Regions from separate parts of the Homo sapiens genome. Here region 1 is linked to region 2. The links come from fine-mapping of genetic effects on gene expression. A gene starts in region 2. The other region holds a variant in brackets. All regions are shown on one strand. Distances are between the middles of the regions. Region 1 overlaps LRRC8A (leucine rich repeat containing 8 VRAC subunit A). Region 2 holds the start of LRRC8A (leucine rich repeat containing 8 VRAC subunit A).

The links. PIP is the estimated chance that this variant, and not a neighbour inherited with it, causes the effect. A credible set is the group of variants that fine-mapping cannot tell apart.
Region 1: its variant is the best candidate, but not a certain one, in a credible set for the expression of LRRC8A in tibial nerve (GTEx, PIP 0.50).

The regions. Positions count from the first base shown.
Region 1 is chr9:128,903,120-128,912,455 of GRCh38, reverse strand. It overlaps LRRC8A (leucine rich repeat containing 8 VRAC subunit A), which reads right to left. Exons shown (of 4, transcript NM_019594.4): 3 at 3,135-5,299. The coding sequence starts at 5,291. It overlaps LOC101929291 (a long non-coding RNA gene), which reads left to right. Exons shown (of 4, transcript XR_007061808.1): 3 at 2,218-2,412; 4 at 2,516-3,141. Among named protein-coding and RNA genes, the nearest start is that of PHYHD1, 13 kb to the left of the region's middle. RefSeq lists an enhancer at 1,931-2,714 and a silencer at 8,543-8,715. The variant GCA/A (reference allele first, on the strand shown) is at 6,156.
Region 2 is chr9:128,876,596-128,886,260 of GRCh38, reverse strand. It overlaps LRRC8A (leucine rich repeat containing 8 VRAC subunit A), which reads right to left and starts at 4,128. Exons shown (of 4, transcript NM_019594.4): 1 at 4,011-4,128; 2 at 140-246. KYAT1-SPOUT1 (KYAT1-SPOUT1 readthrough) reads left to right here and starts at 4,311. Exons shown (of 25, transcript NR_182311.1): 1 at 4,311-4,364. It overlaps KYAT1 (kynurenine aminotransferase 1), which reads left to right and starts at 4,311. Exons shown (of 13, transcript NM_004059.5): 1 at 4,311-4,364. RefSeq lists enhancers at 53-815, 4,092-4,241 and a silencer at 3,782-4,061.

The DNA.
Region 1 (9,336 bases), 26 kb before region 2:
CTCACTGCTCCTCCCCACCAGAACCTCCTGGACTGTCCCTTTCCCCTCCACCTGGCTTCCTCCTCCTCGTTCTTCAGGGGCCTGTTCCTCTGTGTTCCCAGGGACCTGGTGCTCCAGCAGAGCGCCTACGCACTGTGCTAACTGCCTCGTTACTTGGCCTTCTTCATCCCCATGTCCCCGGCGCCTTGCTCCATAGCTGGATTCTAGAAGTGCTCAAAAAACATCTGCACAAAGGCCAGGCGAAGTGGCTCATGCCTGTAATACCAGCACTTTGGGCGGCCAAGGTGGGAGGCTTTGAGGCCAGGAGTTTAAAGACCAGCCTAGAAAACACAGTGAGACCCTGTCTCTACCAAAAAAACAAACAAACAAAACATAACAATTTGCACACATCAGTAAACGAGTGAACGAATGAATACTGTCTTGTCAAGGCTTTCATTAGCAAGAGTATAAATCTGGAGAAACAGCACGCAAGGGCGTGGGCAGGCCACGCCCACCCCTCCTGGTCACCACTGGCCAAGGTGGCTGAGAAGGAGCCATCAAGCCCGAGTGAGGAGGAAGAGGGGCTCAGGCCTCCCACTCAGAATGAGGGGCCTGCCTGGGGTTGGCCCAAGTGAACTGTTTTCCCTATTAAGGCTCTGGTGTTCCAGGGGGTGGGGACAGGATGTGATTAAGCCATGTGCTAAACAGGGTGTCCAGAGGGTCTCCTTCCTCTGGGACAGCGTGCTTGCCGCCAGCTCCTTTCCTGAGGGGTGACCTCAGCCAGCAGGCATGACACTAACAGGCAAGCTTGGCGGGAGGAGCTGGGGGTGGGGGACAGGATGGGGAGCCAGGCTGGAGGCTTGAACCCTCCCCCAACCAGGAGGACAGCCCCAGCACAGCACCCGGGACAGGGCAGGAATGGCAGGAGCTGTGAGGAAGTCCCAGCTTATCAAGGGCAGCACTGTGCTATGGGGAAGCCACAGGGTCTCCCCCTCCACAGATTAAAGAAGGGCTGGGTTTGTTCTGTGCTTCCCAAATGTGGCTTCTCCCCAGGGGACTCCAGTTTTCCTATTCAGTGGGCCTGTCCCGAAACTACAAGAGAAAACCCTGCCCTGGTCCACTCTCCCACTGTGCTCAAGTCATAATATGGGGTGGCCGGAGATAAGGACTTGTCAAAATCCCTGATACATGTGGGTTGCAGGTTGCTCTGCAGTAAGGGAGCCCTGGGGAAGAGGGGAGGAAGGCTTCCAAGCCAGCAGGCATCTGGAGGGCCTGAAGCATCTAGTCTGAGTGATGCTGGAGAAGGTGTGTCCTGTCCTGGGGCCCAGGAGGACAGACAGGGCATTCCAGGGGCCACCTCCCTCCGTGCCTGAGGATACTATAGACAGACCGGGCATTCCAGGGGCCACCTCCCTCCGTGCCTGAGGATGCTATAGACAGACCCTGTTGGGAGGACTCAGCAGGTTGGTGGAAGGAGGACAGGTGCATCATGCCTGGCACAGGGCGAACACAGAGCAGGTGCCCACGAAACCAACAGGGACTGCACCGTGGGGCTGCTGCATGGCAGATGCACCCAACAGCAACAACCGAACTAAGAAACGCGGGTTGCCACACGGAGGCTGCAGAGGGGAGGGTGCTTAGTGAAAATGCTCTATGAGCTGCACGCTTTTTATAAGCAGGAGTGGTTTTCCTATTTGGCTCACTGCTGCTGGACCACCCTGTAAGTAAGTTCCCCCAAATAAACCCCATGTTTCAATGGCCGGCTCCAGGGCTCTTCATTTTACTTTGAGACTGGGTCTCACTCTATTGCCCAGGCTGAAGTACAGTGGTACAACCATAGCTCACTGCAGTCTTGAACTCCTAGGCTGAAGCGATCCTGCCTCAGCCTCCCAAATAGCTGGGACTACAGGCACATGCCACCATGCCTGGATCATTTCTGTATTTTTGGTAGAGATGGGGTTTCCCTATGTTGCCCAGGCTGGTCTCGAACTCCTGAGCTCAAGTGACCGCCCCACCTTGGCTTCCCTAAGTGCTCGGATTACAGGTTTGACCCACTGGGCCTGGTCAACTCCGAGTCTCTTCTTCAGCCTCCTGAACCTGGTGGCATCCCTAGTGAAGTTCACAGGGGCCCGGCACGACAGCTGCTGCTGTGTCGGGGGCAGAAGGGTGGCTGGCTGGGCTCTCCCTTGTCTCCCAGCGCCTGGCCTCAGGCTTCCTCCACCACATGTCTCACTACAGGAATCTCCACCTGGATGTGAGGCCCAGGAAAACCTGCAGGTCCCCAGGACGGGTGGAAGAGGGACGTTCCCCACAATGGCAGTGGCTTTGTTTCCATTTCGGAGGCCAGACCACAGAGCCACAGGAGTACCCAGCCCTCCATCCACACTGCCTGCCTCCACCAAGGGGCCCTTGGATGGGGGCTTCCCCAGCCAGGTAAGAGACTGGCACCCACAGACCACCAACAGTCTTGAAAGTATGTCGAAGGTGTGGCCTCCCAAACTCCCAGTGACAATGATTTGCACAATTTCCTTTTCAGAAGGGCAGGCAGAAACAAACTAGCCCCATCTAGGCCCAACTCTGCCTCTGACACCACCAAATGCAGTGGAGAAAGGTGTGTGGGAGCTGCAGAGACCATCCAAGGCTTCCCCTCAGCCAGCACTGGCCACCCACACAGTTTCTGTCCTGGGTGGACCCGGATTGGCTCCTTGCCTCCAAGTCCGACTGGGAACAAGCTGAGGAAGACACAAACTCCAGGCTAAGTCTTGACTCCCACCACCCGGCTTTGCGAGAGAACCCCCGGGTTTGGACCTCCTGCCCAAGCACATCCCTGCTGAAGAGGAACCCGGCTCAAGGTCACCTTGGGGGACAGACCTTGCCTGGCCATGCAGTCTCTCCAGGCAGGAGAACTGCAACATTTTGGAGCAAAGACAGGCCCGGGGCCCAGAGATTCGGATTCAGCAGGCCTGGGATGGGGCCCAAGGAGTCTGTCTCTTGAACAGAGCTTCTATCCTGGATGGTTCTGTAAACCCCAGGTGAGGACTCCACACTCAGGGGCATCGACGGTCCCAGGACACTGAGCCTGCCGAGTGCCCCACCACAAGCCCTGGCCAGGCCACCCGCCAGCCCACACGCAGAGCTGTGGCCGGGCCACTCACCCGGTTGGCCGTGATGGCTAGGTTCTGGAGGTTCTGCAGGAGGCCGATGTCGGCAGGGAGGAAGGTCAGGTTGTTGTGGCTGAGGTCCAGGTAGCGCAGCTTGCGGCAGTAGAAGAGCTGGGTGGGGATCTTCTCGATCTTGTTGCGGTTCAGGTAGAGGCGCTCCAGGTTGGTGAGGTTGCCGATCTGGATGGGGATGTAGGCGATGTGGTTGTACCACAGCTTAAGGCAGGTGAGGCGGTGCAGGTGCTGGAAGCTGATGATCTCCTCGATGGTCTTGAGGTTGTTGTCCTTGAGGTCAATCTCCTGCAGGTTGTGGAGGCTGAAGATGGAGTGGGGGATGCGCTCCAGGTCACAGCGGATCAGCTCCAGCTCAGTCAGGTTCGCCATCTTCTTGAGGCTGTTGAGGACGATGAGCTTGGTGCCCTCATTGTTGATGGACAGCTTCTGCAGGTGCACGCCCACATCTGTGACCACCTGTGGCAGCTTGCTTAGGTTGCTCTTGAGCCGCAGCACCTTGAGGCGTTTGAGCTCCCGCAGCCCGTCGATGACGATGTAGCGGTTGTTCTCCGCGCTCAGGTTGCCCGTCAGGTGCAGCTCCTCCAGTGTCTTCAGGCTATAGATCCACAGCGGGATCTCCTTGATGTCGGTGAACTTGATGTGCAGCGCCCGCAGGTTCTCACGCAGGAAGGCCAGCGCGGGCGCTTCAATCTTGGCCGCTGTGTGGTAGAGCCACAGCTCCTTGAGGCCCGTGAGCTGGGCAATGCTGGGCGGGATGGTCACGTCGGGGATCAGCTCCAGCTTGAGGACCTCCAGCTCCACCAGGTCAAACACAGTGTCAGGGATGCCACTGAGCATGAACAGGTGCAGCTCCAGCTTGTCCTGCGCGTTCTTGGTGAGCCGCTGCCGGAGCTTGTCCAGCGTCCACTCGTTGTTGAGGTTCAGCTGCCGCAGCTTGTTCTCACTCACCTCCGACAGGAAGACGGCGAAGCGCTTGGAGTAGAGCGGGTCGTATTGGTCAATGAGGTGCAGCATGAAGGCGAAGTCGTTCTTGACGTCGGGGATGTCGCTGTAGCTGCTCTCCTCACGGATCGACTCAAACGAGTACTTCTTGAGGGAGCGCCGTAGCATCCACCACAGTGTATACATGCAGATGAGGCCGTAGAAGATGACTAGGCTGATGTAGAAGGACGCCAGGATCTTGAAGAGTGTGGCCAGGGGGTGGGCACAGCGGTAGGTGCGGTAGCCCGTCAGGCTCTCAATGTCCACGGTGCAGTCCACGTCGAACTTGATGTTGTGCACGTAGTAGACGGTGTAGCAGATGATGAGGATGAACTTGATCACCTTGATGATGGTCTGCCGCATGTAGAGGCGGTACACAATGTCCCCCTCCTCCACATGGGTCCGGAACTTCTTCACCTTCTCAAACAGCGCCTTGGCTTGCTCCCCCTCCTTCTTGTCCAGCACGCCCGTCTCTGAGCGGTCCACGATACCCTGCTCGATCCGTGACTTGGTCCGCTGCAGCATGGGCACGGTGGCCTCCACGTCCTCACTGACGGTCGATGACTTTTTGTCCATGGACCCATTCATCTTGCTGAAGGCCGGCTTGGGGTCGCTCTCCTCCACCACTGTCTCCGACAGGGCCCTCGTGGTCCAGGGCGAGTCGAAGCACTTCAGCAGGATAGACACAAAGTGCTCCAGCTTCGAGCTGGTGCGCGGGAATTTGAACCAGAAGTTGCTGCAGGCCAGGAAGATGAGCGTGTGCAGAAGCACCAGGTAGGGGAAGTACTTGGCAAACCAGTGCAGTCGGTTCTCATAGCACACAGCGTCCACGTAGTTGTACTGGTGCCGGTCCAGGTCATACTTGATGCCTGTGGGGCCCGTGTCAGGGGTCGGCAGAATGGTGGAGTTGGGGTAGGTGGGCTCCGGGCCAGGGGCTGCCCAGCCCCGGAACGAATCATTGCAGGAGTCCTTGGTGACCCACTTACAAGGCAGGCAGATCATCTTGTCTTGGGTGACCTGCAGCGTCCCCCCGAAGACGGCAATCATCAGCATGACGATAGAGATGTAGTCTGTGAACACATCCCACCACGGCTTCAGGATCCGGTATGCTGGCTGCGTGTCCGCAAAGTAGCGGAGCTCTGTCACCGGAATCATGGTTCAACCTAAAAGGGAGCCATAGGAGGGGGGTTAGCACAGGGTGGCCTGGCTTTCCTAGGACCAGGGGTCAGGGGAAGAAGACAATGAAAATTCTTCCATTGTCCAAAATTCCACCTCAAATCTAGCTGGGAGCCAAAGCCTGCCTACTCCACGGGGCAGCCCACTTATCAGCCCTTCTGCAGAAAGCATGTGGCCACTTGGCTGGGAAACCACCCTGGGGGAGGCAGGCAGGCTCCCCATTTAATACACAGGAAGACTGAGCACAGTGAGATTAGACAGATCCCCAGTGCAGCCTCAGGGTTCTCTGCTCCATCCCTTGCATTCCAGTAAGAGCAATCGGGAACTCCTTTCTAAAGTCCACCTATTTAATGAACAGATTGACCAGAGGGACACATTTAAAACTCCCAGTTCACTGGGAACCAGCTGCTGTAAAGCTGCAGCAAAGGGCTGGAGGGATTCCCGCAAAATATGAGGAAAGAAAGCAACATGCAGAGGGGGCACAACATGAACTCACTTCCATAAAACAAAGAGCAAGGTTTAAAAATTCCACGTGGTTCACGTCTGTAATCCCAGCACTTTGGGAGGCCGAGGTGGGTGGATCACCTGAAGTCAGAAGTTCAAGACCAGCCTGGCCAACATGGTGAAACTCGGTCTCTACTAAAAATACAAAAATTAGCCTGGCGTAGTGGCGGGTGCCTGTAATCCCAGCTATTCGGGAGGCTGAGACAGGAGAATCACTTGAACCCGGGAGGTGGAGGTTGCAGTGAGCTGAGATTGTGCCATTGCACTCCAGCCTGGGCGACAAGAGTGAAACTCCAACTCAAAAAAAAAAAAAAAAAAAAAAATTCCACATGGGGGCTG[GCA/A]TGGTGGCTCACGCCTGTAATCCTAGCCTGTAATCCCAGCATTTTGGGAGGATGAAGTGGGAGGATCGCTTGAGTCCAGGAGGTTGAAGCTGCAGTGAGCTATGACCCCGTCGCTGTACTCCAGCCTGGGTGACAGAGACCCTGCTTCAACAACAAAATTCCACATGTGTGTATAGTTATGTGTGTACAAGATTCTGGGAACACTCGGAAGACCAAAGGTCACATAGTGGGTCTTAATGACAGGCTCCTAGGGGAGCGGCCTCAAGAGAGGGGATTAAGAATAAGGCTCTCCTCCCTCACAAACTGGGTGATCACAGAGAGGCCTTAATGTAAAATCATCTCTGGTTGCGTGTGTATAAAGGAATTAAAAACAGCAGCAACAGCAGGCTCTCCCAGAGAGAGTCTAGTTTGACTACTATGGCGAGAAGCTGGAAATCTGATTTTTCTTTTTTTTTTGAGACGGAGTCTTGCTCTGTCGCCAGGCTGGAGTGCAGTGGCATCATTTCGGCTCACTGCAACCTCTGCCTCCAGGGTTCAAGTGATTCTCCTGCCTCAGCCTCCCGAGTAGCTGGGACTACAGGCCTGCACCACCATGCCCAGGTAATTTTTGTGTTTTTTAGTAGAGACAAGGTTTCACGATGTTGACCAGGATGGTCTCGATCCCTTTACCTCCTGATCTGCCCGTCTCAGCCTCCCAAAGTGCTGGGATTACAGGAGTGAGCCACCGTGCCTGGCTGGGAACCTGATTTTTAACACATAACTTTGGTGACTCTAATGATTGGCCAAGCTTGGGAAACACTGGCTGAGAAGCCACATTAGGAAACCCAGACTGTGCTACACAGGAGGCACGCAGCAAGATCTCTGTGAGAATGCCTCTCTGTGGCCATTCGTGGTCACACGGCCAAGGCTGGTTGCTCTTACAATGAAAGACGTATGGCTGTCACGGAGGGATAAGGTACTAGATGTTCCCTGGAGAACATACGGAAAATTGTAAAAAAGCGTAGCAGCAAAAAAAGAAGAATCCGCTTTACAATCCCCACCAGGGTTACACACTGTTAACTTTTCACTGAATAATAACCTTCCAGTCCTTTCTGTGTATTTTATAATTTTATAATTTTTCTTGTAAGAGATTGGATCTTGCTCTGTTGCCCAAACTAGAGTGCGGTGGCGTGATCATGGCTCACTGCAGCCTCAACCTCCTGGTCAAGCAATCCTCCTACCTTAGCCTCCCCCAGGTAGCTGGGGCTACAGGTGTGTGCCACCATGCCTGGCTAATTTTTTTTTTTTTTTTTTTTTTTTTTGAGACGGAGTCTCGCTCTGTTGCCTAGGCTGGAGTGCAGTGGTGCGATCTTGGCTCACTGCAAGCTCCGCCTCCCAGATTCACGCCATTCTCCTGCCTCAGCCTTCCAAGTAGCTGGGACTACAGGCACCCGCCCACCACACCCGGCTAATTTTTTTTTGTATTTTTAGTAGAGACGGGGTTTCACCGTGTTAGCCAGGATGGTCTCGTTCTCCTGACCTTGTGATCCGCCCGCCTTGGCCTCCCAAAGTACTGGGATTACAGGTGTGAACCACCATACCTGGCCCATGCCCGGCTAATTTTTAAAATTTTTTGTAGAGACAGGATCTCACTATGTTGGCCAAGTTGGTTTCAAACTCCTGGCCTCAAGCAATCCTCTGGCCTTAGCCTCCCAAAGTGTTGGCATTACAGGAGTGAGGCACTGCACCCAGCCCTTTCTGTGTATTAGAATAAATTGTGCTTTTATTTATTTATTTATTTAGAGACAGAGTATTGCTCTGTCACCCAGGCTGGAGTGCAGTGGCACAATCTCAGCTCACCACAGCCTCCGCCTCCTGGGTTCACATGATTCTCCTGCCTCTGCCTCCCAAGCAGCTGGATTACAGGCACACGCTACCACGCCCAGCTAATTTTTGTATTTTTAGTAGAAACGGAATTTCGCCACGTTGGCCAGGCTGGTCTCGAACTCCTGACCTGAGGTGATCCACCTGCCACGGCCTCCCACAGTGCTGGGATTATAGGTGTGAGTCACCATGCCTGGCCAAATTGTGCTTTTACTTTACATTCAATTTTTACTTTACACTGTAACCCAGAACCTAGATTTTTATCTAAACCAAGTTTTAAATGCCTGTGTCAAATGTGTCTGTCTCTCTTAGGAGAGGAACAGGGGTGCCCAGATGATGGGCCACCTTTCTTTGATTACTGATAATGTTAATAACCAGAATAGTAACAAACTTTTTTTTTTTCCCTTTTTGAGACAGTCTCACTCTGTCACCCAGGCTGGGGTGCAGTGGCATGATCCTGACTCACTGCAACCTCTGCCTCCTGGGTTTAAGTGATTCTCATGTTTCAATCTCCCAAGTGGCTGGGATTACAGACGCCCGCCACCACATCCAGCTAATTTTTGTATTTTTAGTAGAGACGGTGTTTTGCCATGTTGGCCGGGCTGGTCTTGAATTCCTGGCCTCAACCAATCCACCTGCCTTGGCCTCCCAAAGTTCTGGGATTACAGGCGTGAGCCACCGTGCCCGGCCTAGGTAGGAACTCTTTAAGAACAGCACTTCTCGGGCCAGGCACAGAGGCTCACGCCTGTAATCCCAGCACTTTGGGAGGCCAAGGCGGGCGGATCACGAGGTCAGGAGATCGAGACCATCCTGGCTAACAAGGTGAAACTCCGTCTCTACTAAAAATACAAAAAAATTAGCCGGGCATAGTGGCAGGCGCCTGTAGTCCCAGCTGCTTGGAAGGCTGAGGCAGGAGAATGGCGTGAACCCGGGAAGTGGAGCTTGCAGTGAGCCGAGATCACGCCACTGCACTCCAGCCTGGGTGACAGAGCGAGGTGCCGACTCAAAAAAAAAAAAAAAAAAGAACAGCACCTCTCTGCAAATGCCAAACACTCCCCAGCCCCAATCTTTCTAGGCTATGCTGGATGGGGAGGACAGGAGGAAGGCAGAGCAGGACCCCATGTGAGGCAGGTGGAATGGGGCACTCAGCAAGGGTGATGATGGCCACAGCCAGTGCTGAGGGCCTGGAAGTGTGCCAGGCACCAGGCAGGCCTCCCCTGCAGGCCCTCCTAGGGTCATCCTTGATGCCCAAGAGGCCAGGCCTCTATAGCCCCATCCCAGAGATGGGGGTGCTAAGGCTCAGGAAGGTGACATCA
Region 2 (9,665 bases):
TCTGCCACTCTACCCTGGACCTACAGCAAGAAAAGCAAAGGACTGTGGGGATGGAGATGCTACCCTTTGCTCCCCAGGCTGGGAAGGGCACTTGACTGGAGCTGGAGCTGGCTGAGAAGGAGAGGGGCCCAGTCCTTACCCCAAGGATGGCTCTGCTATCTGCGCGTCGGCTGTCGGTGCTGAGGCTGGCCCGCGTCTGCCTGTGCAGGATCCTGGCATTCCTTTTGCTCCATGGACGCTGCCTCCCTACAAGGAAGCGAGAGCTGCCGTCAGCAGGCACATGTGTGACTGTCGCAGTTACCTGCCACACCGCCAGCACTTCCTGAGAGCCTGCTTGGTAGCAGGCCCTTGGCTGGGCTCTGGGGTGACAAAAGAGGTTTTTTTTGTATAGTGGTGCAATCTCGGTTCACTGCAACCTCCGCCTCCCGCATTCAAGTGATTCTCCTGCCTCAGCCTCTCGAGTAGATGGGATTTCAGGTGCGCACCACCAAGCCTGGCTAATTTTTTGTATTTTTAGTAGAGACAGCGTTTCCCCATGTTAGCCAGGCTGCTCTCAAACTCCTAACCTCCAGGGATCTGCCCGCCTCGGCCTCCCAAAGTATTGGGATTACAGGCATGAGCCACCGCGCCTGGCAGACAAAAGAGGTTCTGACAGAGCACCTCCCTCCAGAACCTGGTCTACTGAGGAGGTGCCAAGTCAGTAGCGACGGTCTGAGAGCTCAGAGCTCTGCTGCGGGGGAGCCAGGAGAAGCACTAGACCCAGACTAGTGGGGTCAGGGAAGGCTTTCTGGAGGAGGAGTTGTCTGAGTTGACTCCTAAGAGTAGGAGCTGGAAAAAGAGCATTCCAGGCAGGAGGAACAGCACATGTTTACCTGGAGGAGAGAGTACATGGCATCTGGAGAAGGCTTGCGGGCTCGGCATGGCGAGATCCAGAGCCAGAGAGGGGAAGTGGCAAGAGATGAGCCACAGTGGGGTGGCTGGGTCAGGCAGAGACCAGCCAGTGCCCAGACTCCAACTTAAACACCAAATCCACCCATCATCTCCGACAGTCAACCAGCCTCTGGTGAGCATCTACTCCATATGCGCCAGACACTGTGCAGAACTGTGCATGGGAGTGGCAGGGTAGGGAAAGCTGTGATCACTACGACACGGGTTTCGGGGAGCCAGGAGCTGGGAGAGTGGCCCAGCCACCAGAGAGAGCCAAAGGATCAGCAGGAGTTACCCAGGAAGGAGGAGGGCGGGGGTAGACAAAGACACCTGGACTGATCTAGGAGGGATGGCTGTTTTTCCATCATTTCTACCACTGGGTATTTACTATATTGACTAAGTTCCAGGCCCTGTGCTGGGAGGGCAGACATGGAAGATGGTCTCCGCCGTCATGGGAGGTAGGTCAATAACCCTGCAATTCCATACGGGGTGGTGGTGACTAGGCAGTAAAGTACCTACAGCTATATAGGCACGGAGGCCATCCAAGCCAACCTCTACCTCACTCTACCCTCCTTGTCAAGGATGGGGCACCCACTGAGGCTGGGTGGTCCAATCACCTGCCCATGGCAGAGCCAGGTCCAGAACTTGGGCCCCTGGACTCCCTGTCACTAATTATTCTAGTCCCTCCTCTTCCAGAAAGCATACCCTGACCACCCCCTACATAACCACCCAGAGCTAATTCCTTCTTCCTCTGGGCTGCCTCTGTAATATTTCTATTAATATGGTGGCCACAGTATATCAGAACTTATGTGTCTTCTGGTTTGCCTGTCCTCCCAGACTGCAGCTCTCAGGAGGCCAGGGATGTTTTCCCAGCCATCCCAGGCCCAAGACAGGCACTTTCTAAAGAATGGCTGAATGAATGAATGAATGAATGAATGAGTCAAGGCATGGAGAGACACTGTGCTGGGCTCTAAGAGCCCCACATCCATCCCACCTGAATCTCCAAGAGGTCTTGGCCCATCAGTGTGTGCCTCAGTTTCTCCATGTGAAAACCTGGAATCAGCTCTACTCTAAGACGAGGCAGTCAGGAACCAGGCTGATTTCCCTCCAACTCCTACAGGCAAGGTCCAGGCCAAGCCAGGCAGCAACCCAGGGTCCGGCCACTTCCCTGAGTTCTGACCCACGGCAGTGATCCCCAGGATTCCCTACAGTCCAGAAAGGTCATTCAAGAGTTTGCAAAGGAAACGGCTTCCTGGTGGGTGTGCCTAAGGGATGGAGAACCACCACATCTAGTCAAGTTCTGGGGGGAAGTCATGAACATTTCCTGTGCCCCCGCTCTGTTTTTTTTTTTGTTTTTTTGAGATGGAATTTTGCTCTTCTTGCCCAAGCTGGAGTGCAATGGCGCGATCTTGGCTCACTGCAACCTCTGCCTGCTGGGTTCAAGCAATTCTCCTGCCTCAGCCTCCCGAATAGCTGGGATTACGGGTGCGCAGCCCCATGCCTGGCTAATTTTTTGTATTTTTAGTAGAGACAAGGTTTCACTATGTTGGCCAGGCTGGTCTCGAACTCCTGACCTCGTGATCTGCCCGCTTCAGCCTCCCAACGTGCTGGGATTACAGGCGTGAGCCACCACGCCCGGCCCTGCACCCCCTGCTCTGTACCCTATGGTCCCTAGAACGCAGAGGGCATCAGACCCCATGCCAAAGCCCTGAGACCAGGAAAACAAGGAAGCAGAGACCAGCCACCCAGTCACTCATCCCTGGCATGTCCACAACAGCCTCCTCCAGCACAGGTCATCTGTCCTTGCCTCACTTCATGAGCCAGAGGAAGACTTGACCTTCATGGAAGCAACACCAGTGAGACTGAGCAATCAGCACTGCCCAGTCTCTCTGAACAAACTCCCACTCCCACATCCCCTCCACAGGAAGTATCAGCAACAGCCGATCTCCTCCCGCTTCTTACAGCCTGTCTGTCTGCCAGGTTGTCTGCTCCAAAGGGCAGAATACAGTTTGGCAGGGGTTAAGAGTACTACTAACAGAAGAGGTGGAAGAGGTCCTTGGGAACTTCGGGCTCCCCCAGTTCCCTTCCTCTTACCAGGTGCTCTCCCTCCACACCTCATTCTCAAAAGGCTTCCTGAGGTAGGGCAGGGGAAGAGGAGTCAGTGGAAGTGTGGCTCACCCAGGAACCGCCCACCCTTCCAGCCAAGTCTCCATCAGGAGGCGGCTACCAGACAACCCCCGACCCATCCCTCCTTCCCAAAAAAGGCAACAATCGCAACAGCTGAGAACCGGCAGACCTCGGTTCACCCCGGTCCAGATCAAGGGGAAGAAGCAGTCAGCGAAAGCAGCAGAATCATCATGAACTCCATGACCCCAGCTATGCCCCTTCAGCCTGGGAGCTCAGTTTGCTGGGTATCCAGCTCACCTAGGGCTGCACCAGGCCTGGACCTCACTGGATCTCGCCTCGCCCTCGGGCCCACCTGAATGCACAGGACTGGGACAGGGTCTGGGTTCTTAGATTCCGGACCGGTCTTCCCAAATATCCCATCCCAGAAAGGCCCCAAGAGCCTAGCCGGGGATCCTGCCCCCAAGTCAGGGCACTGCCCCCATCGGAACGATAGGAAGGAGGGGTGCAAGGGAAGAGAAGGGGACCAGGAACTCAGGAGAAGACAGCTAAGGAAATCTTTGAAAAAGAAATGGCAAGGAGAGAGCCCAGAGGTGGAACCTCTAGGAACGGGAGAGTGTGTGTGGAGGGGTGAGGATCTGGGGGGACCCAGGGGATGACAAGGGGACATGGGGGAGCCGAGGCGGAAACTCCTGGTTTCTGAAGCACAAGGAGGCACAGGGGTGCCTGGGAGGGGGCTCGCGCGCCGCGGAGCCGGCGAGAAGGTGGTGCCCCGGAGACTCCGGGCACTGGGGAGCCCAGAGGTAGGCCGAACACCGCGGGAGGTCCCCAGGGGGCCGGCCCGGAGACAGAGCCCCAGATGCCCCGGGCGCCCCGGGCCGGGCAGCTGGCCGAGGGCGTGTGTAAGTGGGTTTCGAGAGGTGACAGCTCGCGCCCCTTTCCCCACCCCGTCCACTCACCTGGGCTCGCCGCGCCCGGCCGCCCGGCAGGCAGCCCCAGGCCCCGGCCGCTCCGTCCCGCCGCCGGCCGCAGCGCTGCTCCGGCGCCTCCTTTTGTTTGTCCCTCACTGCACCACTCAGCCTCCTCCGCCCCGGAAGTGACGTCACCGCCGGGCGCGAACGCGGCGGCCAGGGCGTCGCCATCTTTATGAGGAGAATTCTAGCGGCGCTTTCTCCCGCTCTCGCCTCCGCGCTAGCGCCCTGCTGCTTCGGGGCGGAAGTAGCGGAGCCGGGCTCGGCCCCCTTAAAGGGACAGGGACTGCTGCAACCTACGGGGTGTACTTGGGAACGAGGGGTGAAGCGGCCCAGGTGAGGGTGAGTAGCTGTGTCGGAGCGCCACTTCCCCAAGGTCAGGTGCCGAGGCTGGGAGGGTCGGCTAACGGTTCCGAGCTTGGTTGTGCTAGAGTGCTTAATGAGTTTGATGCTACTAAGTATAACGGAGTGGCTGCACAGAATGATTGAGCCGCCCGCGGGAATCAACTGCGCGTGCTGCTCGCTGATTCTCGCTCGGACACTGGGGCTGGTCCTGTCTGCACCCAAATCCCCCTCCCACGACCGCGCCGGTGGAGATGATACCCGAGACAACAGAATTCTGGACAGATCTGGGGTTGGAATTGGGTCCCCAGACTCCAACTCTGCAGCTCCATAAATCCCGCTGGGTCCTCGCAAATTCCCTGGCTGATAACAGTACCGGCAACCAAATTAAAAAATAATCCATACAGTGGAATACTGTGCAGCCATTAAGACGAACAATGTTTAATATGCACTAATGTAGGGTGACTTCTAAGATACCTTAGGTTAAAAAAGGAAACAACAGTAAAAACAGCGTTGGGCCGGTTGCGGTGGCTCACGTCTGTAATCCCAGCACTTTGGGAGGCCGAGGCGGGCGGATCACGAGGTCAGGAGATCGAGACCATCCTGGCTAACTTGGTGAAACCTCATCTCTACTAAAAATACAAAAAAATCAGCCGGGCGTGGTGGTGGGCGCCTGTAGTCCCAGCTACTCTGGAGGCTGAGGCAGGAGAATGGCATGAACTCGGGAGGTGGAGCTTGCAGTGAGCCGAGATCGCGCCGCTGCACTCCAGCCTGGGCGACAGAGCGAGACTCCGTCTAAAAAAAGAAAAAACAGCGTTGATGGGTGCTATCCATCTTTGCGTAGAAGGACGCCTGAGGGTGGGCGTATCTGCGGGTGTGCGCGCCAGCTGTCTGATAAGATGCACAAGAAGTTGTTAATTGCGGTTGTCTCCGACAGAATTGGGGTCTTGGGTACCTGGGCCAGGGCGAGAAATTTACTACCATGTGCACAGATAGATAATTAAAAATAAGATGATGAAGATAGTCGTGGCTCCCATCCATCACGTGTTAAGCCAATGCCTAGTTTCACTTCTGTTGGGAGGTCTTATTTTTCCCTTTTAATAGAAGAGAAAAGAACCTTAGAGAGGTTAGGAAACTTAGCAATATCATAGCCAGGGCCGGGCGCGGTGGTTCACACCTGTAATCCCAGCACTTTGGGAGGCTGAGGCGGGCGGATCACGAGGTCAGTAGATCGAGACCATCCTGGCTAACACGGTGAAACCCCGTCTCTACTAAAAATACAAAAAAATTAGCCGGGTGTGGTGGCGAGCGCCTGTGGTCCCAGCTACTCGGGAGGCTGAGGCAGGAGAATGGCATGAACCTGGGAGGCAGAGCTTGCAGTGAGCTGAGATTGGGCCACTGCACTTCAGCCTGGGCAACAGAGCAAGACTCCGTCTAAAAAAAAAAAAAAATCATAGCCAGGAAGTGGAGAAGCTGGAATTTGAACCCTGGGAGATTTACACTAATGCCCATGATCTAGCTTATCCCTCGCCACTGAGATGCTTTTTCTGTTGTCAGTCACGCAACACCCGTCTTGGGGCCTGGCACACAACAGGCATCCAGTAACTATTTATTGACATGATGTGTGGTGTGAAAAGCAAACGTTGAAGGTCAGAGCCCAGGCTTAAAGTCCAGGGCTTGGGCACCTCTTTCCAACCTGTGGACTGTGGGCCTGCCAGGTACTCCGTGGGCCTCCATGTCCCCGCCTGTAAAATGAACAACCAGAACCACAGTTGTAGACAGTGAATGTTCCCACGTATTATACTTTGTATTTTACACGCAGATAAGTCTCATTTTACAGATAAGTGAGGCACAGAGAGATTAAGAAAGTTGCCAGAAGGGGGTTCCTACAGGTCTCCCTCCCTCCCTAGGAAGGCTGCTGGGCTCCCAGGCCTCTCCCTTAGCTTCCCAGGATCATCTGTGCTAATGCCTGGGGGACCTACTCTGTGCTGGGTGAGCTGCCAGAGGCTGAGGATCTGGTGGAGAACAGGTCAAGCACATAGTTCCTGTCCTTGGAGTTGAGCGCCCCCGTGCTGAGTACTTTGAGGGCGGAAGCCCAGGTCTTGGGACCACCTGGGAGGGGACATGTGGCTTAGCCTGGGTGGAGTCAGAAGGGGCTTCTCCAAGGAAGGGACTTTCAATGTGACTGGAAACTAGGATGTCCAGAAGGAGAAATGATGAGGCTGGAGACTCAAGGAGAGATGGGCTCCTACCCTGGACTTGGCCTTGGTGTCCACTAAGAAACTGAGGGTGACCAACAGGATTGGAGAATATACAAGTTAGACCCATTCAGTCTGGCTTCAGCAGGAATCTTTCCTCCCGGAGAATGCCTCCATTAGGTGCCAACCACCAGAACGCCACACTAACCTCTCCAAGCTCCAAAGAGTAGGGCGCCTGATTTTATAATCCAGGTGGGGGCGATAAAGGAATGCAGGAGCCTTCACAGCCATGAGGCAGTCACTGTAACTCCTGCCAGAACAGACCTGGGGCCACATCCCACTCCTGGATGGCACTGCCAGTTCCCTGCATAATTCCTTTTTTTTTTTTTGAGACGGAGTCTCACTCTGTCGCCCAGGCTGGAGTGCAGTGGTGCAATCTCGGCTCACTGCAAGCTCCACCTCCCGGGTTCACTCCATTCTCCTGCCTCAGCCTCCCAAGTAGCTGGGACTACAGGCACCCGCCACCACGCCTGGCTAATTTTTTGTATTTTTAGTAGAGACGGGGTTTCACCGTGTTAGCCAGGATGGTCTCTATCTCCTGACCTTGTGATCCGCCCACCTCGGCCTCCCAAAGTGCTGGGATTACAGGCGTGAGCCACCGCGCCCGGCCTCCCGGCATAATTTTTAAAATGCTCATCCTATGCCCTCATTCCCCAGCTTGCAGCTGGGGGCCTCCTGGTGCTTTTCTGGGACTTCGAGTAAGTCATTTCCCCTCTCTAAGCCTCAGTTTCCCCACCTGTAAAGCTGATGCCACCTCCTCCAAGGCTCCCGCGAGGCTATCTGCCTATCTGTTGTGTGTTCCTTTAATGTATGGGAGTGAGATTGTGGTTTTTGAATCTGGGTCCTGTGCCAGGAGGAATAAGTGGTGAGATACCTACTGTTTGTGTCACTCAGGTCTTCCACCAACCCCTCCAGCCTGTAAACCTGCCGTCTGGACTCCAGAAGTCATTTCTCTCTCCTCTGCCAATTCCTAAGCCCAGGGGGACTGTGTCTGAGTGACGCAATTGTTAGATCTCCTCAGACAGGCTGTTCTCTCCAGGAAAACATTGGCTCAACAAATTGTCACCAAACATTTGTCTTCAGGGAATTCTGTTTTTTTTCTATCAAAAAAAATTTGGATTCATTATATAATAAGAGATTTTTCATTTTGCTTGGTTACTAATTTTATGGAAAGCCTGGTAGGTTTAAATGTTAATAGCTTGTTGACTGGGTGTGGTGGTTCATGCCTATAATCCCAGTAATTTGGAAGGCTGAGGTGGGACTATCGCTTGAGCTCAGGAGTTCGAGACCAACCTGGGCAACGTGGTAAAACCCCATCTCTATCAAAAATACAAAAATTAGCTGGGTGTGGTGGCACGTGCCTGTGGTCCCAGCTACTCTGGAGGCTGAGGTACAAGAATCGCTTGAAACTGGGAGGCAGAGGTTGCAGTGAGCCGAGATTGTGCCACTGCACTCCAGCCTGGGCGATAGAGCAAGACTGTCTCAAAAAAAAAAAAAAGTTAATAGCTTGTTGTCATTGACAAGTGGCTGTGAGCCAGGACCCACAGTATATTCTCTGTGGATTCTTGTCACCTTCATTGTACAGATGAGGAAGCTGAGCCCCCAAGAGGCTGCGGCCTGGCATGACCAAGGTCCCATAGCTAGTTTATGGTGGAGCTGGGACTATTTGATCCAAGTCCAAGGTTTGGTCTTCTGTGGTTATTCATGCACTAGACTGGTCTTCCTGGGCATGGTATCCCCAGTTCTGTACCCTTTCTCTAGAGGTGCCACGATGTGTGTTGTCTCAGTAACTGGGAGTCTCCTGGCATTTTAAGCCCAGGGATGCTAAACATCCTTCAAGGCTCCAGATAGCTCTCCCCAGTGAAGAACTGACTCATCTCAAATTCTAAGTGTGCCCCTATTGAGAAGCTCCAAAACCGAATGTCATAATTGACTTGAGTGATGTGACGTGGGGCCACCCTGGGAAGGCATGGTCACCTCGCCTGCCCTTGTAAGCAGCCATGCAAGGTGAAGTTGGACAAGACATGGCTCCTGTCCCCAAGGGGCTGGTGGTCTCCTGTCAGCCCTAGCACCCGCCTGAGAGGAGATTTCACGGGACAGAATTTGGACTTTGGAAATAGGCAAACCAGGGTTTGAATCACAGCTGGAGCTCTCTAGGCTGAGTGAGTTTTCCTTGTTCTCCTTTTGAGCAAAATAGAGTAAATAATACCATCCTAATCAGCTGTGATGAGGATTAGAGAATTTAGCATGGGGTTGGGGGAGAGGGTCAGGCACAGGTAGGTGCTTTCTGAGTTCAGCAAAGGGCCTGGGTGGACACAGAAGCTTCAGAGAGGAGGTACAGGTGGGGCTAGGCCCTGCTAGGGATTTTGGATTGGAGGGTATGCCAGGCAGGGGAAACAGCTTGAGTGAAGATGGGCAACATTTATTCAAAAGCAAAGGGTGGCTGGGCACAGTGGTTCACACCTGTAATTCCAGCAATTTGGGAGGTCAAGGCAGGCAGATCACCAGAGGCCAGAAGTTCAAGACCAGCCTGGCCAACATGGTGAAACCCCATCTCTACAAAAATACAAAAATTAGCCGAGCATGATGGTGGGTGCCTGTAATCCCAGCTACTCGGGAGGCTGAGGTGGGAGAATCACTTGAACCCGGGAGGCAGAGGTTGCAGTGAGCCGAGATCGTGCCATTACACTCCAGCCTGGGTGAAAGAGTGAGACTCCATCTCAAAAAAATAAAAATAAAAATAAATTAGCTGGGCGTGGTGGCGTGCACCTGTAATCCCGGCTACTTGGGAGGCTGAGGCAGGAGAATCACTTGAACCCGGCAGGTGGGGGTTGCAGTGAGCCAAGATTGTGCCACTGCACTCCAGCCTGGGTGACAGAGTGAAGAGAGAGGCTCTATCTCAAGAAAAAAAAAAAAAAAAGGCCGGGTGCCGTGGCTCATGCCTGTAATCTCAGCACTTTGGGAGGCCGAGGCAGGCGGATCACGAGGTCAGGAGATTGAGACCATCCTGGCTAACATGGTGAAACCCTGTCTCTACTAAAAA